Homo sapiens: one gene and its partners. The protein of the gene in region 4 purifies or fractionates together with the protein of the main gene of each other region. This does not show direct contact. Each region holds a gene or a part of one and is shown on either strand. Other genes may lie near its edges.

The links.
Region 1: the proteins of RABGGTA (region 4) and CHML purify together in Homo sapiens (co-immunoprecipitation; 4 studies listed by BioGRID and IntAct, with this or other methods). This does not show direct contact.
Region 2: the proteins of RABGGTA (region 4) and PPP1R16A purify together in Homo sapiens (co-immunoprecipitation; 2 studies listed by BioGRID and IntAct, with this or other methods). This does not show direct contact.
Region 3: the proteins of RABGGTA (region 4) and DPCD purify together in Homo sapiens (affinity purification with mass spectrometry; 2 studies listed by BioGRID and IntAct, with this or other methods). This does not show direct contact.

The regions. Positions count from the first base shown.
Region 1 is NC_000001.11:241,630,105-241,637,700, forward strand, and holds part of CHML (rab proteins geranylgeranyltransferase component A 2), read right to left. Parts: intron 6,091-7,596; exon of another isoform or gene 5,970-6,090; coding exon of another isoform or gene 5,929-5,969; 5' UTR 5,694-5,928; coding exon of another isoform or gene 5,663-5,693; coding exon 3,692-5,662; 3' UTR 1-3,691. UniProt on the Homo sapiens protein: Substrate-binding subunit (component A) of the Rab geranylgeranyltransferase (GGTase) complex. Binds unprenylated Rab proteins and presents the substrate peptide to the catalytic component B.
Region 2 is NC_000008.11:144,473,247-144,481,260, reverse strand, and holds the start of PPP1R16A (protein phosphatase 1 regulatory subunit 16A), read right to left. Parts: upstream 3,280-8,014; 5' UTR 3,134-3,279; intron 2,911-3,133; exon of another isoform or gene 2,708-2,910; intron 2,676-2,707; exon of another isoform or gene 2,579-2,675; intron 1-2,578. Other genes in the region: FOXH1 (forkhead box protein H1), read left to right, coding at 5,505-5,678, 6,000-6,104, 6,205-7,023; kinesin-like protein KIFC2, read right to left, coding at 7,811-8,014. UniProt on the Homo sapiens protein: Inhibits protein phosphatase 1 activity toward phosphorylase, myosin light chain and myosin substrates.
Region 3 is NC_000010.11:101,591,037-101,598,632, reverse strand, and holds part of DPCD (protein DPCD), read right to left. Parts: intron 3,976-7,596; coding exon 3,895-3,975; intron 2,041-3,894; coding exon of another isoform or gene 1,994-2,040; exon of another isoform or gene 619-1,993; intron 1-618. UniProt on the Homo sapiens protein: May play a role in the formation or function of ciliated cells.
Region 4 is NC_000014.9:24,268,139-24,276,142, forward strand, and holds the start of RABGGTA (geranylgeranyl transferase type-2 subunit alpha), read right to left. Parts: upstream 3,460-8,004; 5' UTR 3,349-3,459; exon of another isoform or gene 3,032-3,348; 5' UTR 2,978-3,031; coding exon 2,975-2,977; intron 2,810-2,974; coding exon 2,699-2,809; intron 2,321-2,698; coding exon 2,196-2,320; intron 2,003-2,195; coding exon 1,815-2,002; intron 1,557-1,814; coding exon 1,353-1,556; intron 1,026-1,352; coding exon 942-1,025; intron 856-941; coding exon 773-855; intron 689-772; coding exon 587-688; intron 482-586; coding exon 376-481; intron 283-375; coding exon 231-282; intron 61-230; coding exon 1-60. UniProt on the Homo sapiens protein: Catalyzes the transfer of a geranylgeranyl moiety from geranylgeranyl diphosphate to both cysteines of Rab proteins with the C-terminal sequence -XXCC, -XCXC and -CCXX, such as RAB1A, RAB3A, RAB5A and RAB7A.

The DNA of each region.
Region 1 (7,596 bases), on a different chromosome or scaffold from region 4:
TAATCCCCACAATAATTCTGTGAAGTATTTCTCTTCTGTAGATGGTGAAATAGATACTAGGAGTGACTTTCCCAAGAGTATACAACTGGTAAGTAGTGAAATGAGAACTGTAATTCTGGTTTTCAAAAAAACTCCCCATCTCCCCATGTACTACTTTTCCACTACACTGGCATGGCTCCCATGGGAGTTTGTTCATGTTTAAAAATATAGCTCTTTAAACTTGCTTCTATTTAGGCATCTTTCTTAATTTATCTCTATGTAGTTATATAACTTTCTTTAAAAGTCTCATATATATTAATAACCAAACACACTTTTTAAATTGCAGTTTGTCACTGCTAAGATGTAGAAATGAGATTTTTAAAAATTGTGTATCCTGCAACTTCTTGAATTAGTCTTTGTTAGTACATTTTTATACTATAAGTTTTAGCAGTTGTAAAGCCATGTTAATAGAAAATATTTATGCTACTTTCCTTATCTTCCTCATTTTGTGAATGCTGGCTTTTATTGCAATGACAGGTCTCTTTAACCATATATAAAAATAGTGCCAACACTGTTTACTTTCCACTTGAGAAATGTTTATGTTTTCCCAGTAGGAATAATGGTAGTTCTTGGTTTAAGTACTTAACAGACTCCGAGAAGTCTATTAAATCATTGCCAGAGAAATAATTAAATCAAGGGTGAATGATGAATTTTTGAAAAGTTATCTGTAATTAATACTTTGGATTTTACTATTTGTTCTTTTGATGCTGATTTAATGGCTGTTCTGCTTAACACCAGCCTTATAATCCTGAGTGATAGTAAATTATTTGTTGCTGTATTGTTTGCCAATATTTTATTTTGCATTTTGCATCTGTTGAGAATAAAATCCTTCTAAAAATGTCTTTTAGTACTGAGAACATGTCTGCCTCAAAAGACAATTTGAAGCATACTGTCCTTCATGATACATGGATAGACATTATTTAAACATTTGAAAAAGTTCACCAGTAAGTCCATTAGGGTCAAAGTCCAACCTGTCAGAAAATTATACTGGGTTACAATATCCCCTAAATTTTTAAATGCTTTTTATTGGTATAACTTCTCATTTCCCACTTATTTTGTATTAAGAAATATATTCATTTTCTTCATTTCTAAATCAACCTTTATTTTCGACTAATTTTTCCTATTTCCATTATATTCGGCTATACCATCTTTTGCAACTTCTGATTGTTCCTTTTCTCAATTTCTTATGAATAATCTGTGATACTGAAAATCTTTTCGGTAGATCTGGAATACCTTCACCTTCATTTTATTTATCATCTTATGTATTTCTCATTTTAATTACTATTTTATAGGTCTATTTCAAGTATTTCAGTTGTTCTGTTAGATTTAAACTTTAGGATAAAGTTTAAATATGACTTTTACTATATTTTTAAAAGTCAATACAATCCATGACTTTGCTACTTTAAGTAAGTTGTCAATTACTTAAATCTGTCTAGTCTCATTTTCCTCACATATAGAGGAGCAAAAATTAGTGTATTCCGAACAAATTTTGGCCTGATAATATTTTTTGTAACACAATCTTCAGATCATGAGATGTGTTACTGAAGAACATTTTGTTAAAATTTAGCCAAATTCTGCTTCGAGATCCATGCTCTAAAATATGTTTGTTTAGTTCATCTTATCTTCACATTTCTCTGATTCAATAAGCTGCAGGACCAGTGTGTGCTTTTTACCCCCGGCAATGCTAGACTAATTTTCGTGGGCACTTTCTCTTTCTCCTGCAGCGCCTACACTCTCTAACAGTGAATGTTAGTAGAAAGATCAAAGGTTTTAGAATCACAAAAGGCTGGGTCCCCATGTTGGCTCTTCCACATACCAGATTCTGAGCAAATTACTAATAATTCTCTTATTTCTTCTTTGAAGGTGATATGGTTTGGCTGTGTTCCCACTCAAATCTCATCTTGAATTGTAGCTCCTATAATTCCCACGTGTTGTGGGAGGAACCTGGTGGGAGATAACTGAATCATGGAGTTGTTTCCCCCATACTGTTCTCATGGTAGTAAATAAGTCTCACGATATCTGATGGTTTTAAAAGGGTTTCCCTTTTCACTTAGTTCTCATTCTCTCTTGTCCACCGCCATGTAAGACGTGCCTTTCACCTTCCACCATGATTGTGAGGCCTCCCCAGCCACATGGAACTGTGAGTCCATTAAACCTTTTTCTTTACAAATTACCATCTCAGGTGTGTCTTTATCAACAGCATGAGAACACACTAATACAGAGGGTACATGCGAATTTGCCTCACAGGATTGTTGAGAAACTGTCATGAGAAAGCATAATACTAGGTACCAAACACATGATAAATACTATTTCAGAGCAAAAACTGTCACAGGGATCATCATACTCTGACTGAAGAATGGAAACTGGACTAGAGGAAAAGCAAGTTCATGTCTTCTGACAGCTCCACAGGTTTTCACCATTAGAGTACTACCAGTTTTATGACGTTGGGTGGCTCTGGGAGAAAAAAAGTTTCTATACTCTGGATAACAGCTAAGAGGCAAGAGAGATTACAGAAAATTGTTACTTCACAATTTGTTAAGTGGGACACAACCGAAAGGGCATGGTAAATCCTCCTTTGATTCATTCCTATCAGTTATGTTATAGTGATATTAATTAAAGTGGTAGAGCCAACAAGGTGGTATGTTTCATTCTCACTGAAAAACCTTGGGTAATCTATTTATAGAGGGTTTTATAAGTATCTGTAATCTCAGGTTAAAAAGGCCTCACTCTGTTTCTCCTTAGGAATTCCTAAGAATTCCTCCTTAGGAATTTCAGAACAGCCCTTCTGAAGTATCTTCTCCTGGGGCACTTCATTTTTCCTTTTGGTCTAAGTTACTTATTGGAAGCTATTTTAAGTGCCAGGGCAGGGCTCTGCAGAAATTTTCTGAAGTATTAAATAAGAATAAATCTTATCTTTCAAATTTCCTTTGCAATCAACCTCCCCAAAATGAGCTTTACAACCACTAATTGAACTCCAATTCTTTTTGTAAATTAGAATACTGTGGTGGCATCATTGCCTCATCAGTTACAAGGGTCAAGTGAGTATTATAAACTTCAGACCTTCACAGTGCATAAAGGATCATGCAAAGCTAATCTTTAAACGATTATAGACAAATGTATTTTATTATCATATTGGCATTTGTATTAGTTGCTATTCCTACCACCATGTCTATACATTTATATTATATGCAAAAGATCCACATAATTTACCATTTGTGTATGTTTCACTATTCGAACAGGCCGCAGCAACTGTAACAGCTGCAAAAGTAATTAAAATATTACTTGGGTATTACTAATTGTTCTGTAGACAAAGATAAAATCTGAAGATCATTAGCAAATACATTACCTTTAAGCTGAGTTGCTAATATGGAACCCTTACATATATACCCAATACTAAAATAAAGCTAACTCTGTTTTAAGATTCTGGGTCATATAGCCCATTCTAAACAAAATGTTCAATAATCAATAAATCACTCATTGATAGGTTAACAAAGATATTCAATGCTGAATGTCTGAGAGTTAAAGACAACATCTGCATAGCATTCATCATATATAACCACTTCTAATTACTCATATGGGAAACTGTCCTTTAAATGAGAAAATTCTGATGCCATGAAGGAGGTCCAAAACAGCATTTCGAGATTGCTCTTTTCTAATTTTGAAGGTGCTTCTCTGGGCTTTCTAGGTTTTTGCTTTCCTCAGAGGATTCTAGTTTGGCCATTACTACATTATTGGTTCCAGGAGCCTCTGGCTGCTTATCATCACCATCAAAGATAATGTCTTCTGGATTTGGAGGTGGAGGGCAGAATTCTTCAGTTGGAAAGATCTCCTGGAAAAGTGTTTCAGCTTGCTTGACAGCATGCTCATTTCCCAGGCCACAGTCAGGCCCAGAGCAGACATAAACATTGGAAGGCAAGCCATTATACGAGCTTCTGCTGATTCCCGAGGAATCTCTCATATTAAAATAAAGAGCCCACAAGAGTCTTGGCTTTGTAAGTTCTTCCTCGTTTATTTCTGTTTCAGTATACGGAGTGAATAATTTCTTCACCACTGATTCTAAGTCTTCTCTTGCTGTTTTAGAAGATGAACATGTCAAATGTACCAGATAGGTGTCCTTCATGCATGTCATGGTTGAAGAACATAATTCTGTGACCCGTACAGCACAAGCTCCTGGCTCTGCTGGAGGAACTATCAGAATGGAAGTCTGCTGATCTAAATCTGTCTTTAGTATAGACTGATCTGTAATGAGTACTGCCCTAGAGATCTGCTTATACTGCACATTTGAGCATGTTTCCTCAGAAAGGTAACTGTCTTCCACAATAAAATATTTAGCATTTATTCTTTGACCAAAGTGATCTATAATTGCTTTACATCGTCCAGATTCTTTGTCGACTACAAAGCATTGTACTTTATGACGAAGACAATAGATTCCACCAAAAACTGCACACATCCTACAGAAACCCTGGGGAATTTCTCCTTGGCCATACAAGGGAAATAAAAAGGGGGTGTTGCCAAACCGTCCGAGACACTGAAGGAAGTTTTTAGTTGCGTTAAGACCATCTATTGTAGTGCAAGATGATTCTGATGTCATTGCAATTGAGTGCAGTACAAAATGTTGAAGGTTGGGAGTTAGTTTTTTAGTTTTTAAGTATTCTGAAAATGAACACTGCCTGAAAGCTTGGTATTCATCAGGATGTTGTTCATACTCTAAACAAAATGTGAGAAATTTCATTAGCATCCTCTTTTCAACCATGGTGAGTTCCTTGCTATTAAAGACATCTGCTCTGGAACAAGGAACTTGTTCTACCTTTCCTTCCCGAAATGCAAGAATCCTAGTGACATTTTTAAATTCTACATAACGACTAACATCTGATTTGATTAAAAGATCAATTAGCAATCCTTGAGAATACAGCAGTTTTGACACCAAATCAATATTAAACCTCCTGCCTTCTTTAACTATTTGAGAGTAAGTAATCCTATTTCTAATTGGTTCATCGGCCTTATCTTCTACTGTAGATTTGCTTTCATCTTTATCTCCATCTTTATCTGAAACTGTGTGCATACAAGTTTTATCTCCACAATACTTTTCCTTCTCCACTGATTCCTCTACATCAGTTACTTCTAGTGAAATCTCTGTATCACTTTTCTGAGTGTGTTTTGCAGGCATTTCGTCGCTATTAAAATACGATAACTGGCTTTCTTCAGGTAATGCAGAATCCAGAACTTCAGTGAAGGTATTAGACACCCCCAAAGAAGGATTTTTCTGCAGAGCACCAATCTCTTCAACGTTGTCCTCCATATCCTGACTGGCGTAGCAAAAAGCTTCTGTGTGTTGAATAGTTTCATCCTTCTTGCGAAGAGTGATGGCTTCTTCTGTTTCATGGATCAGGTCCTGCCATACAACAGTACTTTCTTCCCCAATGTCATTGTTTTGCTGATACTCCTTCAACCAGGATAGCAATCCTGAAAAGCTGAAACTAGCCCAGTTTCCTCCATAGTAGCTTCTTGAATCAATATGCAGAACCCTCTGACCACTTCTTGAACATGCAGCTGCAAGGATGGATTCGGGCAAACCTGTCCCTATTATAACCACATCAAACTCTGTGGGAAGATTGTCCGCCATTTTAGGAAGTAACAGCGTCTGGTGACAACTGCTGATGAAAGAAATGAGGTGTGATTATGCTGTAATAAAATCTGTCCTTCTGATGTTCCAGTTATCCCAGAAGCACTGAAGTTGCAGGTCCTAGCTGTTTAACGGTTACCCTTTTAAAATATTTTTTTTCTTATAAGTCAGTAGCATAAAAACATGAGCAAGTACATCTAATCACATCTGAGAATACTAAAATGGATGTGTGGTTTCATTTCTGCATTTCATCTTAGCAGTAAATGTCAAAATGCATCATATATGCATTTGTGACTGGAACTCTTCTCTGAAAGAAGAAAATTCAAGAAAGAATACATTGTAAACAATATAAGAGAAAAATAATTTCATGCAACAATGACAATCCATTGGAGTGTGACATCTTATTTGGACATAAACCTCTACTAAAGCATGTCTTAAATGCTTTCTCACATATTTTCTAATTTCTTGAGAATGGACAATAGAGATATAACAGCCCTCCCAAGAATCAGGCAACATAGTAATAGAGAATGAACATAATGTTCCACAAAAATAAAGAAGAAATAACATAATACAATTCTCTAACTTTAGCTTTTAAGAAAACTATCATGTGAATAAATCTATACACAGCTGTGAGCTTAGACTAAAAGGAACGCATGGCTCCACTGTTTATAGAAACAGATTATAAACTATGTGCATACTGCCATGATTCAAAATATTTCTGTGGCCATTACAGTCTATGTGTGATTCCAGAACAGCTGAATATAAGACCTTTCCATGCCACAACCACCCTTAGGATCTCATGGTAGCAACATGAGACTATTTCTACTCAATTACTAGTCAGATTATTACAAAAGGATTAATTCAGTAAAACAACTGGCCATTTAAAAATATTTAGGCTCATAATAGCCCTGAGGAGGAAAATGTATTAAAAATATTATATGAATGTACACATGCATATAAGTAATAAAGGAAAAAAGTGTGTAAGTGTAAGTAAAAAAGGAAAACTTCTGATTTCATATTAAAATATCTTAACATAAATAATACCTACTTCTAACATTTGAATACAGTGATGTTTGCATTTCGCCACTGTCTCTGCAACCCTGAATCTCTGCATCCCAAGCAAAAGGTCTATCTAAACATCCTCTGCCAAGACTAACACTGTTTGTTCTTATTTTTGAAGGGGAAGTTTAAAAAAAAAAAAATAATAAGGTTCTCCTGTTAACTTTGAGCATAATGCTGGTTACATTCCATGTGCGGAAGACATCTGTGTGATGCCCTGTGTGGCCAGAGGTAGAAAGGCCAAGGTGCTGAAGAGCATACTCACCTGAAAGTCTTTAGGCTAAAGCAACAATACTGCTAAACTTTCTAATATTCATCATTGCACAGTTTTGAGCTCTGGTTTTCACTACTGTTAAACCTACTGAAATATAAATCAGTACAAGCTGTACCTGTCTAGCCCAAGATGACTAATAATCCTGGATACTGGAAAAACAAGCCATTCAATTGGAACTTAGATTAAATTGCATAGGGCACACACCTTTAGTTTAACTAAAATGGCAATCCTAACAGTCCTGTCTAGTCAAAGCCTCTGTCTCAAAAATATCAAGGATTCCACTCATTTTTGGCATTCCCTAAGAAGCCAGGAACTAAGTACAGAATGCAGCAGTTGCCTGGCCCACTCAAGTATAAATATAAGTATGTCTGAATTACTTATTCTGCTTCTTCCAGCAGGGTGTGAAGATGGAGACTGAATCTATGATGGTATCTGAAGAGGTGTAACCATAGTACATGCTGCTTCTTGGCTTAGAAAGACAGGGCTCAGGGTAGGAGTAGGAGCAGAAGACACAATCAATAAGCGCTAAGATCAGGCACGTTCTAACCTACAGATATCAAAGGGGTCATCAAAATGCAAAGCAAGTAGGATGGCCTTACAG
Region 2 (8,014 bases), on a different chromosome or scaffold from region 4:
GAGAGAACTTTTGGGGGCAACGGAAATGTTTTATATTTGGATTATGACGTTGTTCACAAAACCCATCAAACAGGCCGGGCGCGGTGGTCACGCCTGTAATCCCAGCACTTTGGGAGGCCGAGGCGGGCGGATCACGAGGTCAGGAGATCGAGACCATCCTGGCTAACATGGTGAAACCCCGACTCTACTAAAAAAATACAAAAAATTAGCCGGGCGTGGTGGTGGGCGCCTGTAGTCCCAGCTACTTGGGAGGCTGAGGCAGGAGAATGGTGTGAACCCAGGAGGCGGAGCTTGCAGTGAGCCAAGATCGTGCCACTGCACTCCAGCCTGGGCGACACAGCATGAGACTCCGTCAAAAAAAAAAACCCATCAAACAAAACCCATTAAACAAAACCCATCACACAAAACCCATTAAAATAGGTGCATCTTACTGTAAGTTACACCTCAATAAAGTTTGATGTAAAAAATCAAAGCATGGGCTGGGCACAGTGGCTCACGCCTGTAATCCCCGCACTTCGGGAGGCCAAGGCAGGAGGATAATGAGGTCAGGAGTTCGAGACCATTCTGGCCAACACGGTGAAATCCCATCTCTACTAAAAGTACAAAAATTACTGGCCGTGGTGGCATGCGCCTGTAGTCCCAGCTACTTGGGAGGCTGAGGCAGGAGAATCACTTGAATTCGAGAGACGGAGGTTGCAGTGAGCTGAGATTGCACCACTGCACTGCAGCCTGGCTACAGAGCAAGACTCTGTCTCAAAAAAAAAAAAAAAGATATAAAAATTAACTGGCATGGTAGCATGTGCCTGTAATCCCAGCTACTGGGGAGGCTGAGGCAGGAAAATCATTTGAACGCGGGAGGCAGAGGTTGCAGTGAGTGGAGATTGTGCAACCGCACTCCAGTCTGGGCGACAGAGTGAGACTCCATCTCAAACAAACAAAAAAACAGAAAGCCACATGGTCAGCAAAGCCTAAAATGTTTGCTGCCTAGCCCTTCACAGTAAAAGCTGGCCAACCCCTGGTCTAGCACATTTATTTGGTGCTACCAGCTTCATCATCACCGCCACCTTCATCAGCTGCTCCTTCTGTCTGGAAAGTTCTTCCACCGGATCTTAGGACAGCATGCTCCTTTGTGGGACTCGGATCACATCTTAAGTGCAACCTCCTCAGAGATCTTCTGTGGTTACCTTGTCATTCTCTTATCTCATCACCTTGTTTTAATTCTTGACATGCCAGTTACTGTTTGTTTCCCTGTTGCATCCTAAGAACTTGGCCAGTTCCTGACTCATAGGCAGCACTCAGTAAGTGCAGTGAGCTGAACAAGTGAACAGCTGCTGAGCCTCTGGCACAGGGGTCCCAGCACAGGATGTGACATGGAAGGCTCTGAGCTCCTGGCTGAGCAAGTCTGATGAAAAGGCCTCCCTTTAGGTGTGCGTGCACCAGTGCCAGGAGAGCCTCGGCATGAAAGAAGGGCCTGGAACTGCCACCCAGTTCTCATTTTGGCCAATGGATAGATGTGGCACAAGTGCTAGGGTTAGGACACGCTCGGGGAAGAGCAAGGGTGGAGCTGGGGGTGCTGGTAGTCTGTGGGGTCACCTGAGACTGAGGTTCCTAAGCTGCATGCAGTGGAGAGCTGTATCAATCGGCTGTTCATTCAGACCAGAGGTTCAAGAATCCCTAGAACACAGACCCCAAAGTACAGTCATACAGGAGGAGCCCCCTTGCTAGGTGCCAGCCCAGGCAACCCTCGGGGCAAAGCAGAGTCCAAGTGCATCCCAAGCAGGTGAGGGATGAGGCCAGGACAGGCCAATCAGAGACACGAGGGATGGCCCCAGCCAACAGGGAGGAAATCCAGCTCGAGCACCAGGAGGGGGAAGGACCCCCTAAAGCCACCCCCATCCCAACCCCAGCCCGGGGGACTTGGGGCAGGGGCAGGCAGCTGGCCCTGTAGAGCTCTGAGCGTCCACCACAGTGACAGGTATGGAGCCAGCATGTGTGCAAGTCCACCAGGCAGCCCCCAGCCCCTCAGGCAACCCAGCCGCACGCCGCCGGAGCTCCTCTCGGCGAGTCGTGGCTCTGGGTCCCTGAATCAGGCAGCGCAACCAGAGGCCTCTTCAGGAGGCCCAGGGTACTGCAGGCAAGACCCTTCTCCCAGAGAAACCCCAATACGTCCAGGAAGCAACTGGGGCGCCAAGACGCCCAGGAGGGCTCACTGCTGGACTAGACACACTTTGAGAAAGGCAGCGGTACCCCCGCCTCCACCTCCACCCCCAGGTAGGAATCCAGGAAGAAAAGGAAGGCACAGAGGTTTGGGGAAGGCTAACTTTGCTCTGTCTCCCCTAAGCCTAGAATGACTCCGTACACGGCTCCCCTCTCTGCACCCATGGAAATTAATCCCACCGTGCCCCGGGCCTCCGCTCTGGTACAGACAGGGGCCCACACCAGTCCTGGACGCTCCCTCCCAGGCGGGGTGCTTGCTTAGTTAGTAATTCTTGCCCTGATCCCAATTCCTGAGGGGTGGTCCGGACGCCCCGCACTACAAGTGAGGTCATTTGAATCCCTGAAAGTTGAAGGAACTTGCCCCAGTGAGACTCCACTTTCTCCTTCAGCCTAGCTCCAAGGCCCACACAAAGCTTAAGTTTGGGTAAGTCCCTTCTCTGCGGCCTCGATTTCCTCATCTGAAAATGAAGACAATTCCGGAGCTGTCTACCTGACCGACGGGCTGCGGAGAATCCACACACCTTCGCCTTGGAACAAAACGCGAAGCGCCCACCGGCAGCCTTCGGCTCCCTGCCTTTCCTGACCGTTGGCACCTGCTGCCCTGGGCCTCAGCCAGCAACGCCCAAGGCGGCCCGGCGGGACCTGTGCCCTGGGCGCCCGCGTGCCGGCAGCCGCGTCTCCCGAGGGCCCCTCCCCGGCCTCCTCCGTCGCCAGCCTCCTCTCTCCCTTCGGTCTCCTCCTCCTCCCGCCCTTCCCGGCCTCCTCCCTCTCCTCTGCCTCATCCTTCCCCGGCCCGGCCTCCTCTCTCGGTGTCGACCCAGTGCCCCTCCTTCCCGGGCCCGCCACTGCTCTCCCTGGCCGGGGCCCCTCTCCCTCGCTCCGCTCCCGCCGCAGGACCCGGGAGTCCGCGCCTCACCTCGCGCCCCGCGCCGACCGCCGCACAAGTGGGTCCGCTGGCTTCCGCGGGTCAGTGGGCCCCGCGCTCCCTGAGGCGCTGCGGGGGCGGGCCCCGCACCCGGCCCTCGCCATGGCAACGCTACACTTCCGGCCCGCGGTACCCATAGCCGGAAGCCGCGGTGCCCCGTGGGAGCCGGGGGCGGAGCCTGGGAGGAGGAAATGTCGGGGGCGGGGCCTGGGGAGGGACGGTCGGGGGTGGGGGCCAACGCGGACAGCTGCGGGCGGCCGGGCGAGTCCTCCGCGGCTGGGACCTCCTTGGGGCGTGGGTGGGACGGGAATGGCTCAAAGTGCTCCAAGGCTCCCGGGACGGTGGTCATTGATTTATGCTGGACAAAACCGAGTCATCGCGGGCAACGGGACGGGCGCCAGCGGAATGGGTGGCAGCTTTGGGGGTGGTTTCGGGCCCAGGACAGTGCGGTCGGAGAAGAGCGGTCAGAACTTGGGGAGCCTCCAGCGCCCCACCAAGGAAGCGCCAGTGGAGAGGGGGGTGCCTTAAAACTTACGGGAGACCGGGCGCGGTGTCTCACGCCTGTAATCCCAGCACTTTGGGAGGCCGAGGCGGGCAGATCACGAGGTCAGGAAATCGAGACCATCCTAGCTAACCTGATGAAACCCCGTCTCCACTAAAAATACAAAAAAATTAGCCGGGCGTGGTGGTGGGCGCCTGTAGTCCCAGCTACTCGGGAGGCTGAGGCAGGAGAATGGCATGAACCCGGGAAGCGGAGCTTGCAGTGAGCCGAGATCACGCCACTGCACTCCAGCCTGGGCGGCAGAGTGAGACTCCGTCTCAAAAAAAAAAAAAAAATTATGGGAAAGGCCCGGCCCGGTGGCTCACGTCTGTGATCCCAGCACTTTGGGAGGAGGCCGAGGCCAGTGGGTCACTTGAGCCCGGGAGACCAACCTGAGCAACATAGGCAGGCCCGGTCCCTACCAAAAATTAAGAAATTAGCTGGGCTCTGTGGCGCACGCCTGTAGTCCCGGGACGCTGAGTCGGGAGGATCGCCCTAGCGGGGGAGGTGGAGGCTGCACGGGGCCCAGATCGCACCACTGCACTCCAGCCTGGGCAACAGAGTGAGACCTTGTCTCAAAACAACAACAACAACAAACACTTGTAGGAAAGAACGACGCCTTGCTGACCGAATGGGGTGAAGTGGCCACAAGTATTAGCCTCATGAGGCACAGGATTGTGCAGCCATAACCTAGGGAACACAGCAGAGAGGTGGTGGCAGGAGTCCTGAGGGAAACCACGTGGCGTCTGAGGGGAGAGTCAGAGATAGAAGGAAAAGGGGCACCACCCGACCGGGGGTGTGGGGGGCAGGAGCAGTGTGGTACCCCACATACAAGGCCCCTTGCGGCCCAGGCCTCCTCCTCCTGGACACTTGCTGCCTGTCCCTCCCCTCCACACCTCAGGGTGTGCTGGACCCCACCGTATGCTGCAGATTTTCAGCCCTTTGAGGTTATCATGGTGGAGGCTGCACAAGAAAAGCTGAATTCTCAGAGTGAAGGGCAAAAGCATATCCCTGGGCCCCCGTGTGTCTGGGGGCCCTTGGCCTGGTGCCAGCACCAACCACCGCTGCTAATTCCCAGAGCTGCTATCCTCTTGGGCAAACTTGCCCCTTGTGAGGGAGGAGAACCTGGGCTTTGGGGCAGGATACACAATACCAGCCTTGCTTGGGTGGAGGAGCAGAGATGGCTAGGGAGGAGGAGGTGAGCGGTCCACCTGGGCTCCTGAAGCAACTCCCAGGAAATCAGTTGAGTCAATGTGTCCCCCTCTTGTTCCTAGGGTGCGGGCTTCATGGCCTTCTCCTCCAGGAAGCTCCACCTGATCATGTCCTGGGTGGATATCCAGCCCCCATAGTTCAGGGCCTACTAGCAGCTGCTAGATCTTGAACTCCAGGAGCGCCCCACGCCTTGGGAGCTTGGCATGGGCTAAATACTCCCCCATTTGTTAAATGGGGTCCTGAAACCTGACCAGGGAAGACGGGATAAAGTAGCCATGGGTCATCGCAGCCCCTTTGAAGCCGGGCCTGGCCACCCAAAGGCAACTCAGGGGTGGAGACTGAGGCCTCAGGAGAAGCCCCCACTAGAATGCTCTCTGCCCCTCCCTTCCAGATTAACCAAAACCTGCTAATTGTGGAAGCCCTCGGCATGCTCCCCTCCCCCACAGCCTCTTCCTCCCTTCCCTCCCCTCCCCCTTCCATCCGAATGATAAAGGCCCCAGCCCGCCTGCCCCAGCCCGGCCTCAGGTCCCGGCCCTGCCTTCTACACTGCCCCACCGCCCTGCACCCTCCACCCGGCCAGGCCCCTGCCCACGCTGTCTACCGTCCCGCATGGGGCCCTGCAGCGGCTCCCGCCTGGGGCCCCCAGAGGCAGAGTCGCCCTCCCAGCCCCCTAAGAGGAGGAAGAAGAGGTACCTGCGACATGACAAGCCCCCCTACACCTACTTGGCCATGATCGCCTTGGTGATTCAGGCCGCTCCCTCCCGCAGACTGAAGCTGGCCCAGGTGAGCGGGCCCCGGCCCCCACTCTCTCTTTCCCCAGACTCGTTCCCCACCCACTTCCAGGTTCAAGCCCTGACCCCCACCCCTTCCTAGCCCACCCAGGTATGCCAGTGGGACCAGTCCTGAGAGCTGAGGGCCTCAAGGCACGACCCTTCTCCGGGAGCCCCTTGCCCTCTCTGCCGCGCTTCCGCGCAGAAATGTCCTTCTTCGGGGACAGCAGGGGCCGGCACCGCGCGCCCCTGAGCCCGGTAGTGGGGGAGGGGTAGGGCGCTACCCCCTCCCCGTCTGGGCTCACGGCGCCGGCCGGCCGCCTGGCGGTTTCAGATCATCCGTCAGGTCCAGGCCGTGTTCCCCTTCTTCAGGGAAGACTACGAGGGCTGGAAAGACTCCATTCGCCACAACCTTTCCTCCAACCGATGCTTCCGCAAGGTGGGGCAGGCCAGGGTCGGAGCCCGGGGGCGGAGCGCGCGCGGAAGTCCTGAGCATCCAAGGTTGGGCAGCCCCACCCATGTCTGACCCCCACACCCAGGTGCCCAAGGACCCTGCAAAGCCCCAGGCCAAGGGCAACTTCTGGGCGGTCGACGTGAGCCTGATCCCAGCTGAGGCGCTCCGGCTGCAGAACACCGCCCTGTGCCGGCGCTGGCAGAACGGAGGTGCGCGTGGAGCCTTCGCCAAGGACCTGGGCCCCTACGTGCTGCACGGCCGGCCATACCGGCCGCCCAGTCCCCCGCCACCACCCAGTGAGGGCTTCAGCATCAAGTCCCTGCTAGGAGGGTCCGGGGAGGGGGCACCCTGGCCGGGGCTAGCTCCACAGAGCAGCCCAGTTCCTGCAGGCACAGGGAACAGTGGGGAGGAGGCGGTGCCCACCCCACCCCTTCCCTCTTCTGAGAGGCCTCTGTGGCCCCTCTGCCCCCTTCCTGGCCCCACGAGAGTGGAGGGGGAGACTGTGCAGGGGGGAGCCATCGGGCCCTCAACCCTCTCCCCAGAGCCTAGGGCCTGGCCTCTCCACTTACTGCAGGGCACCGCAGTTCCTGGGGGACGGTCCAGCGGGGGACACAGGGCCTCCCTCTGGGGGCAGCTGCCCACCTCCTACTTGCCTATCTACACTCCCAATGTGGTAATGCCCTTGGCACCACCACCCACCTCCTGTCCCCAGTGTCCGTCAACCAGCCCTGCCTACTGGGGGGTGGCCCCTGAAACCCGAGGGCCCCCAGGGCTGCTCTGCGATCTAGACGCCCTCTTCCAAGGGGTGCCACCCAACAAAAGCATCTACGACGTTTGGGTCAGCCACCCTCGGGACCTGGCGGCCCCTGGCCCAGGCTGGCTGCTCTCCTGGTGCAGCCTGTGAGGCTCTTAAGACAGGGGCCACTCCTCCCTCCCGCTCCCACCCCCACCTTGTTGACAGGGAGCCAAGGCGAGGCGGCTGTCTGCGACCACAGCAGCCTCGAAACACCAGGCAGCAGCCTTGCTGGGAGTCCACGGTGTTTATTGGGCCACCCCACGCATGGCCGTGGCCCAGCTGGGCACAACCCTCACCCTGGTCTGTCATGCCTGTTTTTCCTACACTCAGCGGCAAAGCTGCAGGAGCAGGGCTGAGCCTGGAATAGCCCTTCCTAGTCCCCTCTTCTCAGCCCACTACCCATCCATCAGTCACCAGCCGTCACCTCCCCTCCCGTGCTCCAGGCTGGGGGAGGGAGAGCCCAGTGGTGGATCCAGCCTGAAGTCCTGCCCTCTCTCATCTGTCTGGAAAGGAGGTAGCACCTTTTTCGGGAAACGGGTTAGGGAGTAAAGACTGCACCCTACATGGTCCTGGTGGTGGGGGGGATAACAGTAAAGGAATTTGCAACGTTTTAATGCCATGCCTGATTTTTGGGTCAGGAGTGGTGACTTGGGTAACCACTTGGCGGGGGGGCCTGGGATTCCCTGCTGTGTGCCGTGATAACAGCAAATGGTGATAAGGAGAAAGCCAAGACCTGTGGCCTGATGCAGGGCTGGGGGCGGGGGGTGATCACTTCAGCAGGCACAACACACTTCACTGGCTGCGGAGGTGGAGGGGTGACTCTGGGAGCTCAGGGGCAATGGATCCAAAGAGGCTAGGGAGCTTGTGCCCTGGGAGACGGGGTACAGGGACTTTACTACCGCCTCTGCCAGCAGAGACCTGGCCTGAGACCCCATGGGCAGGGCCGCGACCCAGGACTAGAGGGGCAGGCCCTCTGCGGGCGCGAGAGCCGAGCCCGAGCCGTTGTCGGGACTGGGGCATGGAGGACTGCCAGGGGACGGCGTAGGGGTGCAGGGGGTCCCGGTGAGCGGAGTGTCGGTGCTGAGGGAAGAAGGCGTCC
Region 3 (7,596 bases), on a different chromosome or scaffold from region 4:
AAAAAAAAAAAAAAAAAAAAAGAAAGCATCTACCCAATGTCTGTATTTTTAAAATGAGAAATAGCATTTTTTCCCTGACTGCTCTCTTTCAACCCTTGCCACTACTCTCTAGGAAACAGACTATGAAGAATTACTGAGGCTCAAGGAGACAATCTTACAAATGCCACGGCTAAACTCCAGGTCTCCTAACTCCAAATCCAGAATTTGAATTATTAATAAAACTTTATTCTGAAAGTGTTCAATAAGCACATGTAATATTTTGAAAGGTTTCTGTTTTTTTTTAAGTAGCTCAATTTATTTTTTATATTTGGCCTTTAAAGGGTAAGCTTTGATTATCTGAAAAAGTAAATTATGAGGACTACCTCACGACCTAGGGCTGGATAAGTGAGGTGCCCCTGTAAGTCATGGGCCTTGCTAAAATGGGTGTCCTAATGCATAATAATGCACCAAGGTGGCCTGGAGGGACGACAACCACCCCAGGGTTTTCTGTGCACTTTTACTCCAAAAAATTTTGAGTTTTACACAGAAAACTTCCCAAGAAGTACTCAAAGAAGGAAGAAAGTCAGCTGCTGATTTCCTTACTTCTGACCTTAAAAACCACTCAGGGAACTTGACACCTCTGGCTGCTTCACCTTTATTTTTTGTTTAAACACCTTGAGAATTAAATTCTTTGTTAGAATGTAGAAGAAAGTCTCCTTTCCCATTCCCTCTAGAGATAAGACCCAATAAAAGATTTTGGGGAAGTCCTTCTTATTTTTCCTATGCACAAGTGCATGGGTGTGAACACACATGTACAAATGCACACTTTGTCTTGTCTTTCTTGCCCCCGTCTTTGTTTCTGAACTCAAGGACGGCTCCTGCGGCAACAGAAGACTGTTTCCATCTGCTGTCACTCTGATTTGATTATATGTTAAACCCAAACTGGTGTGAGGCAGCTTCCCGGGACGCTGTCATATCTTCCCAGCTGAGCCCCAGCCAGACCTTGGAAAAGAGACTTTCCACCCCGGTGAAGAGTCTGATGGGGAATATATAAAGGAGGTGGCGCCTGGGGGCTTTTTCCTAAATCAGCAGGAAGCAGGCTGATGTCCCAGACTGCTGAAAGGAGGCCCCATCTTTCAGGTGGGCTGGAAAGTAGAAGTCCTAAAGGCCTCTTTCCCCAAAGCTCCAAACCCTGGCCCACTTCCAATGTGGATAATTACATTCCCCTTCCCTAAATGTTCCCTGCAGCTTCAACTGGATGCAGGATTCTTCTTTTCTGCCTTAAAACACTGCAACATTGCTATGTGGCAATTAAACAGCTGCCATGTCCCATCCCAGAGGAGGCCGAAGGGAATCGAGTGGGTCATTTATAAAGCCAGTGAAGTGCTTGGGGATGAAAGTGCTCAATATCCTCCAAATGCAGCCTGGGGTGGTTAGGCTGGCGGTCAAATACCAAAGCAGATTAAGTCGGTAATCCGAATGTAATCGCTGGGGGATGGCCTGCCCTTCAGCCTCAGCCCCCTTGGACATGCTGTGTTCTTCTCAGGCTGGTTTGATGTTCCGATCATTGTTGTGGGGCCTTCAGTTTTTTCCTCTATGAATACATGCAGCAATCATTGTGGGGGGTGGGAATGAATAGCACTGAGAGGGTAGGAAAAAAACAGGACACTAACATGCTTATTAACACCGACGGGAGGAACTCTGTCCCAGACTGACGCACACCTATTGGCAATTCTTCCTCTGTAAATTACTTTGAATTTTTCTAACAGAAAACTGGTTTGGCTAATTATCAAATTTGTATACTTAGCTAGAAAAATGGAAACTATTCCTATTTATTGCCACAAAAACCATGTCCCTACTTTACTTCATAGAATGCACAAGCAAAAGCCAGCTCAACCCCTGGGATTATTTATACTTAAAAATTAATAATGGAGAGTATTTTGCCAGGGCAGCAGTGGTGGATAGGAAGAAGAGTAAGAAAAAGATCTGCTGTTCTAGAGCTGGGCCCAGTGGCTCAAGTGAGGTCCTCCTGTCTGCCCATCAGTCCACACTCAGGCCTTTCTGGGGAAAGAAAAACAGTAAGAAGAAAAGAAAGTTGGATTTAAGTGTTCTCAACTCCCAGCACTATGTTGTTGAGGACTAAAGCATGGGCTCTTAATTGGACAGAACTAGGCTTAAATCCTGGCTTAGAAACTAGCTACATAATTCTCAACAAGGTGCTTAACCTCTTTGAGCTTCCATTTTTTCCAAATGTAAAATGGAGACAAGAGTATCTACCTCATAGGGCTTTAACGAGGACGAGTAAATGAGGTAATTCACGTAGAGCACTTAGCATGGTGCCCAGTAAGAGTCACGCTATTAATATCATTATTAGGTCAACTTTAGCCAAACAGTGTTCTCCTGTGAACAGTCTTCTCCATTTCTGCTTTTAAGAAAGAGGAGTTTGGAAGCCATGGTCTATTCCCCACCTGCCACTAGGAGAAGTGACAGGTTAATAAGGGATATCAGGGCACATGGTGCTACAAATGAAGAAACCTGGACTTGTTTTTAATTTCAGTTTCATATCCAAGCACAACAAAGAGGCCTGGGTTTTATTTGTTTGTTTTTACAGCCGCAGCAGCTATAGCTGTTTTATTTGCTCTGTGTGGAGGAGTAGAGAAGTGGCACGGGGGGCTGGGAGTGAGGAGCTGCGGCTATTCTCTGGCCTGGTTATGGTGGTGGCTAGTCCACGTGACCTCTGCTTTCATAAGTTCTCCCCTGTTAGGCATTCCAAGGCTGTCATCCCCTGGGAGCACTATAAATTACAATGCATTGTGAGGATATTACTACTGTATTGGTTTCCACCGAATCAGTGTCATATGCTAAACACATCAAGATTTTTAATAGCACCAGACTAAACCAACTGGGACTGGAGCCCAAGCAGCTCATAATAAGGAGGGATCAACACTTCACTGTGCGACTGAACATGCGCAGGACAAACATTTTAAGACTGGAGACTGAGGGAATGCAAGCCCGTGTAATCCATGTTGTCGGTTCTAGACATTTATGAGCTGTCAGAAAAAAGGAAAAAGAAATTCCCTCACCAATACTACCTGTCGATCAGGCCCAGGAAGAAATTAAAGCCAAGAATAATGACAAGAAAATAAACCAGCCTGTGATTCCATCATTGGTCTTAGCATTTCAGATGGAACTTAATAAAGAGACCAACTCCCACTGCTGACAGCCTTGGGCCCTGGGTCAAAGAGCCAGCCACCTAGCTCTGGGAAGCTGGTTAATGCTGATGTGCACACCTGGGAACAGAGTGGACAAATCAAATAATTCCCAGAAATCTGAGCTGGAGCCCCTACCCATGAGCCTGTTCTTAGAGGAAAGGCGCTGCAGGAATGAAAGTGACCACGCTGCAAAATCACTGTTTTGACCCTCTTTGACTGAGATGTTCTTCAAAATAAGGACCATATTTTATAGTGTTGCCTTTGAGGCAAGCTCAGAAGCTCTGCCTCTGATACTCGCTTGCTCCTGGTGTGGCTTTAGAAAACAAAACAAACAAACAAAAAAACAAGGAAAAACAAATTGTGAAAGTCTGCCCTTATCCCTCCTAAACCTACAAGGCTCACTTCCAATACCACCTCCTCTGTAAAGTTTTTTCCCAACTGTTTCTCTACATCTTAGAATTACTCCCTCTCTCATTTGTCTGGGGTGAGGGGTGGGGATGAATTTTACTGGTCAAAAGGACTCGCATTCCACTTTTGGTGCCCAGATTATGCTCAGGAACGTTGTTGTCTCGAGGGCTTCCGTCTCTCCCAGCCTCTACATTTGATCTGGGCTCCTACCTCAAGCCTAAGGCTAGGAGTGTTCATTGTGCTTATGTCAGCCCCAAGTATTACTAAAGGCCCACTGGGAGCCTCTGTCACTTACCAAGTAGTTCACTCGTCTTCTCGTCATATTCTTCAGCCATTTCCTTGCCGTCTGGGAATAAATAGTGAACCTTCCTTCTCCCTATGCACAAAACAGAGAATGCCTTACCTCAAAGTCTCCCCTTGCCCTGTCCCTTGCAGATCAAGGGGCCTACCTGGGAAACAGTGCCAGCCTTGGGAGTACTGAGGAACCCAGCCAGGACCTCCCCAAACTCCTTGCCAACCACCACCCACCATTACTTTAAAACGTGTCCTGAGACTCTCTCCCTTTCTGAAGCTTTCCTTGAACATCTTTGCCCTGCTGTTTCCTCTACCAGCAACAGCTCCATATTTTTTCCTATCTGTGGAACTCTTCTTTGCCCTTCAAAATCCAGCTCAAATGTCACTTCCACTGGGAAGTCTTCCTCCACTATCACCTCCAGCCACTTTGGTAGGATTAATCACATCCTCATGTGTGCCTCCCTAATGTTTTACTCGTATCCATAGTGGAGCATTTACTACATACCATGATACTTTTAAAAGCATTTGTCTTCCCATGAATGACATCGTATTTATCTCTCTATGTGTTCAGGACATTGAATTGGGTTTCCTGACCAAGCACTCCCTCTAGCCATGCCAGTGCCCTGCCTTCTTCTGCATATCTCCAGGCCATTCCTATCACACAGTAACACAATGTTAAGTCCCCATGTATTTTCTTCATGGCACTTAATTTGGTTATGATTTTACATCTTTTTATGTGACTCTTTGATTACTGCCTATCTCTTCTACTAGATAGGAGGGGTTTTATCCCCATGCTATGGTTTCCTAAAGACCAAGTGTGGCTCCTGGCATATACTAGGAGCTCAACTAAATACTGATTGAAAGGATGAATAAACACTGATGCACTATCCGTTGAAAGAACAGAAGAAACTAAGGGAGGCCAGGAGTTCAAGACCAGCCTGGCCAACATGGTGAAACCCCATCTCTACTAAAAATACAAAAAAGTTAGCTGGGCATGGTGGTAGGTGCCTGTAGTCCCAGCTACTCAGGAGTCTGAGGCAGGAGAATTGCTTGAACCCGGGAGGCGGAGGTTTCAGTGAGCTGAGATTGTGCCACTGCACTCCAGCCTGGGCAACAGAGTGAGACTCTGTCTAAAAAAAAAGAAGAAGAAGAAACTAAGGGAGTCTCCTAGCCCAATTCCTCTACCCCTGGAGCATTTGCTTAAGAGTGGCTATGTAATTTCCCCTTTCTTTTTATAGGTAGGGAAGTAGATACAGGCAGACTCCTCAGTAAAACTAGTAACAGAGCACTAACATCCAGTAGACAAGTACCCTATGTATGCTTGATGAATAAGAGCCCCAAGGTGCCTTTTTCCTGTCCAATTCACTTCTCTGGGATACAGTTCCCTTGAGCCATTCCTAATCTGTATTCTGCATAAACTCACCCCTAAATTTGCAGGGCCTCTAGCAGAGCCCTAGGTAATACCACCCTTAATCATTTGGATGGCTCACAGGCATTAGAAAGGGCTCTCCTGTCAGGAGCGGGATCCAAGGTACTGCCTGGGAGGAGCTGAGGGGGTCTTGCCTGACCATCTTCTCCCCTTGGCATCCAGCCTTGAGTCCAGGCAGGATGCAGCGCTTACTAAATCCAGGCATTTCACATGTCTTATCAAATTTAATTCTCACAATAATCCTATGTGTTTTCATTACCTGTATTTCATAGATGAGGAAAAGTGAGGGTTTTTTTTTTTGACAGAGTCTCGCTCTGTCGCCAGGCTGGAGTGCAGTGGTGTGATCTCGGCTCACTGCAACCTCTGCCTCCCGGGTTTAAGCAATTCTCCTGCCTCAGCCTCCTGAGTAGCTGGGACTACAGGTGAATGCTACCACACCCAGCTAATTTTTGTATTTTTAGTAGACACAGGGCTTCACCATTTTGGCTAGGATGGTTTCAATCTCCTGAGCTCGTGATCTGCCCATCTCAGCCTCCCAAAGGGCTGGGATTACAGGCATGAGCCACCACGCCCGGCCAACTGAGGCTTTTTTTTAGAGTGTCTTGCTCTGTTGCCAAGGCTGGAGTGCAGTGGTGTGATCTCGGCTCACTGCAACCTCTGCCTCCTGGGCTCAAGTGATCCTCCACCTCAGACTCCCGAGTAGCTGGGACCATGGTTGCACACCACCATGCCCAGCTAATTTTTAAATTTCTTTGTAGAGATGGGGTCTTACTATGTTACCCAGACTGATCTCAAACTCCTGAGCTCAAGTGATCCTCCTGCCTTGGCCTCTCAAAGTGTTGAGAATACAGGTGTGAGCCACCACGCCTGGCCCTTAACTTTGTTTAAAGTGGGTTTTCCCAAACAAGTGTTTTTGTTTTTTAAGAGTGTCTGGCTATGTTCCCTAGGCTGGAGTGCAGTGGCTATTCACAGGCATGATTATAGCACACTACAGCCTCAAACTTCTGGCCTCAAGTGAGCTTCCTGCCTCAGTTTCCCCAGTAGCTGGGATTACAGGTACCCAACACAGGTGTTTAGTTTTTATAAAGCCAACTATATATTTTCTTTCTTTGTGGTTACTGCCTTAGAAGTTGCACTCAGAGCATCTTCCCTTACCCAATGATTATTCGATACTTATCTATACTTTGTTTTAATAGTATATTTATTCTAGAAATAAATGTATATATAAATTATTAAGTATATTAGTATATTTTTGTAAAAGAAAAATAACTGTGAGTGTATGCATGAAATAATATAGAAGTTTATGTATAAAAATATAAATTATGGGCTGGGCGAGGCGGCTCACGCCTGTAATCTCAGCCCTTTGGGAAGCCGATGCAGGCGGATCACCTAAGGTCTGGAGTTTGAGACCAGCCTGGTTAACATGGTGAAACCCTGTCTCTACTAAAAATTAAAAAAAAAATTAGCCGGGCTTGGTGGCGGGCGCCTATAATCCCAGCTACTCAGGAGACTGAGATAGGAGAATCGCTTGAACCCAGCAGGCAAAGGTTGCAGTGCGCCGAGATTGCGCCATTGCACTCCAGTTTGGGCAACAAGAGTGAAACTTGTCTCAAAAAAAAAAGTAAATTATGATTATCTGGGTGGTAATATTATATTTGACTTCTTTATTTTTCATATTTCCACAATGAATGTAATTATTTCTTAAAAAAACAAAAGTAAAATGGAGTCTCATTATCCAGCCCAAGATATCAATAGCCATGATTCTTGGTGGAAGGGAGTAACCTCCCCCCTACTCCCCACACCCCTCCTACACACCCAGGGGTAAATCTGCAGGTTTGACAAGGCTTAACCACATATGCAATACTGAGTTGTTTTTCAGTCTGGGGATAGGGTGGAATCTTAACAATATCATTTTGTGATGCTACTAACAAAAGAACTTAACAAAATCCTGGCTGATAAAATATTTGTTTAAAAACTTCTGTGACCAAAAACAGTGAAAGCAGGGACTCAAGTGGATATTTGTATACTCATGTTCAGAGCAGCATTATCCACAATACCCAAAAGGTGGAAGCAACCCAGGTGTCCATCAACAGATGAATAAATAAACAGAATGCAGTGTAGACATACAATGGATATCACTCAGCCTTAAAAAGGAGCAAAATTTTGACACATGCTACAATATCCATACCTCTGTGCCCACCTCTTCCAGGCACAGCCCTTGGTCCTTGCTCTATCTCCCCTAAAAACACAGGGAACATTTAGAGGTTTACTTTA
Region 4 (8,004 bases):
TCCTTACAGGATTCCAGCTCAGACTGCAGCACTGTGGACTTCTCCACTGACAGCTCACACCTGAGGGTGGGCAGGGTGGGGAGGAGTTGAGGCCCACAGCCCTGAAGCACTGGTCAACATTCCCAGTATCTAGACTGAAACAGCTCCTTGAGGCCCCAGCCTCCTGCCCTGGCTGCCTGATGCCCAGAGTCCAGAGCCCCTCTCCTTGTTTTGTGCTTCCCTATCACCACCTGAATAGCTGCTCGTCTGTCGTGGAGTCCCGGCACCAGCCCTCCTGGCGGCCTGGGGAAAGAGTAGGTGGTTGGAGGGTGCACCCTTGAGAGGAAAAGAGTGATGGGGGCTGCTGCAAGGGGTGGAGGCTGCAGGTTCCATCACCTTTTAAAAGCACGCATTCTTTCTGGACATCGCCTGCTGTCCAAATGACGCGAAATGTATGTTGGGGCAACTGGTCGTTGAGGGAGGCAGCAGGCAGGTCACAGAGCTGGGAGTACTGGGTCAAGGAAATGCCCCAGCCTAACCACTTTTTTGACTGTCCCACCCAGCCCTGCCCCAGACCCCAACTTCTGCCCCACCAATCCTGGGATACCCAGACATGGCTGGGCCGGTTCCTGCCATCTGGGGTCCTCCACTCCACAATCAGGGGAGAATCATCAACCATGAGCAGCAAGATCTCCATCCTGGAGCCCACCTGGCACAAAGGACAAAGACTTCAGCCCCATCAGCACCAGGCCCACAGTCCCACAGTGCTCTTGACAAAAGCTGCAGGACTCACTAAGAGGGGCCGAGAGAAGGAGACAGTCAGACAGGCCTCGTCCCGGCTCACATGCAGGCAGCGCAGTGCATCCTGGGGGTCAGCTGCGGGGAGACAGTGTCAGATTTCTTTAAACCCTCTCCCATTCCTATTAAGCGCTAAACACCCAGCCCCTTTCCTCATTGCTCACCTCGGCCTAGGAGCCAACGGTGATAAAACCAGGCACTCTGGTCATTGGGGTCAGTGAAGAAGGCATTCTGCACCAGCTCCAGCTCTGTGGGGTTCCAGGAGGCATGGGGCTGTGGTCAGGACACTGGTGAGCTCCTGGCCACTCCAACACCCTACCCTCTCCTTGGAGTACTTCCAGCCCCCAGTCTCACTTATATGCTGTCCTTGCACAGGGGCTACGTATGTCAGTTTTATCTTCCCCATCAGACACTTAAGCTTCCTTCAGCCAGGGACTGATTCTTAAGCACCCCTGGAGCCACGCATGAAGTAGGTGCTCAATAAACCTGAGTGACAGGTTCAGGAACAGGGTCAGGCATGGGGGCTGGAAGGGTGGCACTGCAGAGTCCTCCTGAGCATCCCTGACCCTGGTTACCTTTGAGCAGCACATCCTCAGGGAGGCGCCCCTGTGGTCCAGAATCCGGCTGGGGGTGCAGCTGGGGCAAGAGACAGGAGCGGTAATGCCAGGAAGAGTAGTTGGAGAAGTTTCGGGTGATGAGGCTGTCAGTGAAGGCTAGCTCTTCTGCAGGGGGCACGGCTGCCTGTGTGGCCACAAACCGCCGATAGTCCCAGCAGTGAACTGGAGGGGAGAGGTGACAGCATATCTTAGAGGCAGGGCAAGAGGAGCTACCTGGCTGGGACCCCTAGAGTCCCCTCAGGAACCCCTAGAAACACCTCAGTGCACTCCACGGAGGATGCATTTGGCTCCAACATCCCTTTCAGCACCAGCTCAGTGGACCCATCCTGGATATCCCTCCCCATTCTGGGCCTTACTGAGGCCCCAGTACCAGAATGTGGGCAGGTGAGGGCTGTGGGGACAGAATCTGCAGCCACGTACAGTTCCGCTCATCCACCTCCAGGAAACGGGCACAGAGCTCCAGCTCTCGGGTCCAGTTGGGCTCAGGCAGGCGGCCTAGCAGCCAGCATCGGTGGTGCCAGGTACCATAAGACTTGGGGTTCACCCGCAGGCAGCTCTCCAGGAAGCCCAGTTCTGCCTTCACCAGAGCAGCCAACTCTTCAGGAGACCTGTACCCAGAAGGGAAGGGGGGGGTCAGGGCTCTCCTACAGTCAACCTCAGCTCACCCCTCACTTTCTGCACCCAGCCCCCTACTATCCTCCATCTATGCCACTGGCTGCCCCATTTCTCCTCCACCCCTAGACCCAGGCAGTGCAGGCGCAGGGCCAGGGCAGTCTTCTGAGATCCTGAATCCCTACGCACTTCTGAGTCTCCAGCTGCTGGAGCACCTCTCGTCGGCAGTTCCAGAGGGTGGCAAAATCAGGGTTGGCTCCCAGAATCTGGCTTGTCAGTTCCAGCACGGACTCATCCAGCTCACCAGCCTGGCGCTAAGAAGATAGGTGGCAGGGTTAGAGATCATATAATTTTCCCACTACAGGACTAAATAACGTAAACTTAAAACCATCCAATATTCTGTGAATCCCACATTATACAACAGGTACTATGAACCATGCTTTATGGCCTTACAGGTATTCTCTCATTTAATCTTCACAACAGCCTTATGCAGTAGGTGCAATTATTAGCCCCATTTTACAGATGAGCAAACTGAGGCCCAAAGAGATTCAGCAACTTGCCCAAAGTCATACAGTTATAAGTGAGATAACCCAGAATTGGATCTAGGCAGTCTGACTCTAGGGACCAGCTCTTGGCCTCTGCACTATACTAAGGGAGCTACTTGGGGTCGGGGCTACCTCTGAGGGCCCCACCTTCTGGAATACGGCCTGGGTGGCTGACTGGTATAGCTTCAGCTTCTGCTCTCGCTCTAGCCTTTTGGCCTCCGCCTGCTCTTCTGACGTCTTCACCTTCAGGCGTCCGTGCTACAAGGATGAACGGGTTGGAAGAGTGCAGGTTGCCTTGCAGAAGCTGACCTGCAAAAACCCCACACTGTGGAGCCCTAGGTTCATACGGGGCAACCATGGCACTGCCACTGGGGGTGAGGGCGCGGGCCTGCGGAGGTGAAGGGCTGGGCTCAGGGTTCTCACCATGGTGCCGGCTCAGGGTTCAAGACAGGGGAAGGGTCCAGTGGTAGCCCTTGAAGTCTGAGGAGAGAAGTGTCAATCACGTAGCCCCGCCCCTACTAGCTCCGCCCACAGCTGTGTCCGGAAGCAGCAAGCGTGCCTGGGCAGAGACCCCCAGAGTGTAAAGAGGTCCTGGGACAGGCTTTGCACGTTCCACAAGAGGTGAGCACCCGGACTAGGACTTCCATCCGTGTGGCCCTTCCTATAGCCCGATTCGCCCGGGCCAGAGCGCGAGCCGGGGCACCTGGGCGTTGGGGACCACTCTGCTCCCCAAAGGTTGCCGCTACCCGCCCGTCCCACGGCTCCCGGGCACCCCCGCCCCCCGCGGGCGGACCCACCTGCGCTGGGAGGAGGCGCGGGGGACGCGGAGCTGCGGCGCCCGCCACAGAGCCCAGGCGCTGGCTAGAGCGGCGCCACGTCCCGGCTCATCGAAACGCAGCGCACTCTGCAGGCTTGGGGAGGGACTTGCGGCGGAAGAGGCCGGCTCGGAGGCGCGTGCGCGGGGGCTCTGCGCTCGCTGTCCGGAAACGCCTCGTACCTGTTAGCCACCTGGTGTGTACGAGTGCGCACGGGCGACTGTAGCGTGCGTGTGAAATGGGGGGAGGACCATGCCAGTTGGTAACTCAGAGTGCAATGTAGTTAGTGGAAGAGGTTTCTCCAACAGCCGGAAACCCGCACCTTCACTACTCCACTGACCTCACCCTGGCCACACCGACAGCCTTCTAGATGTCAAATCTAACAGGGGGAGTTTCCTGTCATTTTCTCTAACCTCTGAAGCATTTGACGCTACCCATTTCTTTATACTTGACACCCCCATTCTGGCTTCTCCTCCTGCACCTCTGCCTCTCTCTTCTCATCTGTTCACCTCCACCCCTAAATGTTGGTGATCTCCAGGGCCCTTTCCTCACCCCTTTTTCACTTCACCCACTGTTCCTGGGAGAATGTTTAAATGTAAGCCTTCAACTGCTTCGAGTTGGAGCTCCTCAGAGCTGTTTTGGCCCACAAATCTGGCATTACACTTTCTCTGGGTGAGTTCATCCACACTCATTGTTTTAATTACTACCTGTAAATTGATGACACCCAAATTTATATCTCCAGCCCAGATGTCTTGCAAGCTTAAATAACAATAAATAATATACATGCACATACATATTCAAACACCTGTTGGATATCACCTGGTGTCCCAGAGACACCTCAAACTCCAAAAGCCAAAAGGTATAAATTATCTTTCATCCATCCTGTCTAAACATTGGCCTTTATGTTTTCTATTGTAGTGAATGGCACTATTTCCTCCTCACTTCTTAAACTCGCTTAAATACTCTTTCTCTTCCCACTGCCACTAGGAGTTCAAACTCCGAATTTCTTCTCCAGATTGTTGAAAGTCTTTTCAGTGTTCTCCACCTCATCCCTTGTTATCAGTCCATCCTCTGTGCTACTGAATCCATTTTTCTAAAATGCAGATTTGACGTCATATCTGTGCCTAAAAGTGCTGAGTGGCTCCTTTTCAGGATAGAATTGTAATCTCTCAGCTCAGCACATCAGACCTATTGGCATTTGGGCTCTGCCTACTCTCTGGCTGTATATCCTGCCTGACCCTGCCAAAAACTCTTCATGACAGCCTACAGAAATACTTGCAGTTTCCTAAATATGTTAGCCTGTTCCCTCTTGACTCTCCTTTCTCCACACTCCTCCTTTGCCACAGTAATTCCTGTTTATCTTTAAGATTTAACTTTTTGAACTCCACAGTACAAAGAAAAAAAAATGTAACTCAAGTGGCACCTCGAGGAAGTTCTCTAAAATGCCCCAGTCTGATTTGATAGACCTTCATATGTACTTTTAAAGACTGTGATTTTTTTCCCTGTGCCTACTGCAAAGAAGGTTTTCTGGTGGAGCCTTTATGAGGTTCAGGGTGGCTAGTGAGTGTGTGTGTACCACACGTACACGTGTGTGATGTCTTTGCGAATAGTGTGTCCATGTGGCATGTGTGTGTTTATAACTCACACCTGGGTAAGAAGGTAGTGCTTTAAATTTTTTTTTTTTTTTTTTTTGAGACAGGGTCTCACTCTGTTGCCCAGGCAGGAGTGCAGTGGCACGATCTCTGCTTACTGCAACCTCTGCCTCCTGGGTTCAAGCGATTCTCCTGCCTCAGCCTCTGGAGTAGCTGGGACTACAGGCATGCACCACCACACCCGACTGATTTTTGTAGTTTTAGAAGAGACGGGGTTTCACCATGTTGGCCAGGCTGGTCTCAAACTCCTGACTTCAGGTGATCTGCCCACCTTGGCCTCCCAGAGTGCTGGGATTACAGGTGTGAGCCACCATGCCCCGCCAGTGCTTTAAATCTTTATATATCCTTCACACCTCTCTCAGCCCCTGGAAATGTATGTAAAGTGTCCATTATATACTTGTCCTTTCCTAGATCCTATAACAAATTCTCGAAAAGAGACATTTTTCCTATCCCTGTGTATTTGTAGTCCCAGTGAGGAAAGAGTTAAGCCATTTATTGGTTCTCTTTGTGCCAGCCACTGTGATGGGAGTTTTGCATACATAGGAGGGATGTGCACACACACAGAATTACAGGTAGGAGGCAGTAAGCAGAGTGATTAAGAACATGGATCCTGGAGCCAGACTGCCTGGCTACAAATCCTAGCTTTGCCACTTGCTTGTCCCAGTGTGACCTGGGGCAAGTTACTTAACTTCTGTATTGCGTTTCCTCTATGTCTGAATTTCTTCAACAGTAACATAGGAAAAATATTATCTAGCTGCTGCAGTTGAAGTTAATCTGTTGAAGTTAAGCTGAAATAAAAGAATCTATGTAAAGTGCTTAGAATAGTGTCTGTACTAAGTAAGGGCTCAGTATAGTAATAGGAAGCTGAGGCTCAGAAAGATTAAGTAACTTGTTGAGGGCCACCCATGTAATAAGTGGCCAAATGGGACCTGTGTCTAGTCTGGTCCAGCCCTCCCACCTCACCACCAGCCTTCTTTTGTTGGTGGTCACCTCCTTCTCTAGCTTCCTGCTCTGTGCACACTCATAGGCGCAACCAGATACTTGGGAACACAGATGCCCTCAAGTGCAGATTTGCCAGGTACAGCCTTGCATCATAGTCACTAATCACATTGTGATTAGCAATCTTGAAACTGGGAAGGTTGAGTCAAGCAGGCTTAAGAGAGGAAGTGAGTCTCATGAAAAAATCTGCATCAGAGAAGGCAGGGCTTGAGTTTTGGAAAGAGCGGGCAGGAAGGGTATTTCAGGTATGTAATATGACGTGAAGGTGGGGGAGAGAAAGCCAAACTAACTTAGCTGGCTGGCACAGAGAGGCTGAGCCAGGTGCCTTTGGAGATAAGAGCAGTGGAACTGATGATAATAAGCCTCTTGCTTGAAGGCAAAAGGAGTTGTCAGGAGTTATATTTGGCCTCCTATGTGGGATAAGTGGGAACCATGCAGGTGTCTGAGAGCCACAATCTTTTTTTTTTTTTTTTGAGACGGAGTCTCGTTCTGTCACCCACGCTGGAGTAGTGGTGCGGTGTCTGCTCACTGCCAGCTCTGCCTCCCAGGTTCATGCCATTCTCCTGCCTCAGCCTCCTGAGTAGCTGGGACTACAGGCGCCTGCCACCCTGCCCAGCTAATTTTTTGTATTTTTAGTAGAGACGGGGTTTCACCTTGTTAGCCAGGATGGTCTCGATCTCCTGACCTCGTGATCTGCCTGCCTCGGCCTCCCAAAGTGCTAGGATTACAGGCGTGAGCCACCATGTCCGGCTTTTTTTTTTTTTTTTTTTTTGAGACAAATTTTGCTTTTGTTGCCCAGGCTGGAATGATGCAATGGCACCATCTTGGCTCACTGCAACTTGTGCCTCCCGGGTTCAAGCGATTCTCCTGCCTCAGTCTCCCGAGTAGCTGGGATTACAGGCATGCACCACCATGCCCAGCTAATTTTGTATTTTTTGTAGAGACAGGGTTTCTCCTTGTTGGTCAGGCTGGTCTTGAACTCCCGACCTCAGGTGAGCTGCCTGCCTCGGCCTCCCAAAGTGCTGGGATTATAGGCGTGAGCCACCGTGCCCTGAAAGCCACAATCTAAATGATGTTTGAAGAAGAGATTTTTACTGCCCTCTATGTATAGAAAGAAACAAACAGTAATTGAGTATCAACAGAGCCCCAGACATCTTATTTACTGCACTCACTACCTATATGAAATAGGTATTATCCATATTTTACAATGAAGCAACAGGGAATACAGTGGGTTTGCAGAGGTTAGTTTCTTGTCCAAAGTCACACATCTTCGAGATTCAGAATTGAGTCGGCTGTATAGGTGAGAGTGACCATTGCCAGAGGCCTGAACCTGAGTTTCTTGAGACCTGGAACCCTGGCGTCTTTCCACCCCTGCCAATTCTTTCTCTACTCCTGCTCCCAACATACATACACAGAAGCACACACACATAGTCACTTACAATGGCTCCAGGACCCTGAGCCCGTCACAGACCAGAGAGTCTGGAGGGAGGAAAGGGGGCCACGAGCCCTGGGTCAGGGCCCTGGGCCAGGGCCCTGGGTCAAAGCTTGGCTAGAAGCCATGGTCTGACGGCAGGGGGAGCAAGTGCGAGACAGGTAATGGAGCTGTCTCCGGGCCATGTGCAGTGTGTGGTAGTGTGTGCATTTATTCAGTCTCTTGATGTTCAGCATCAGTGCTGGGCCTCACAGCATGTTGGGTGCCAGGGATCCAGTAGTGGACCAGAAAGACAAGTCTCTGTCTTCCAGAGCTTACAGTGGCGTGTAGCACTGTCCGATAGAACTTTCTGTGACAATGGAAGTGTTTGGTATCTGTGTCATCTAACACGGTTGACAGTAGCCCCATGTGACTGCTAAGCGCTTGAAATGTGCCTAGTGCAATTGAGGAACTGAATTTTTCATTTTTTTTCATTTTAATTAACTTAAAAATTTTTTTTTGGCCACGGGCCAGCTGTAATGCTGTAGTGCTGTAGTCCCAGCACTTTGGGAGGCC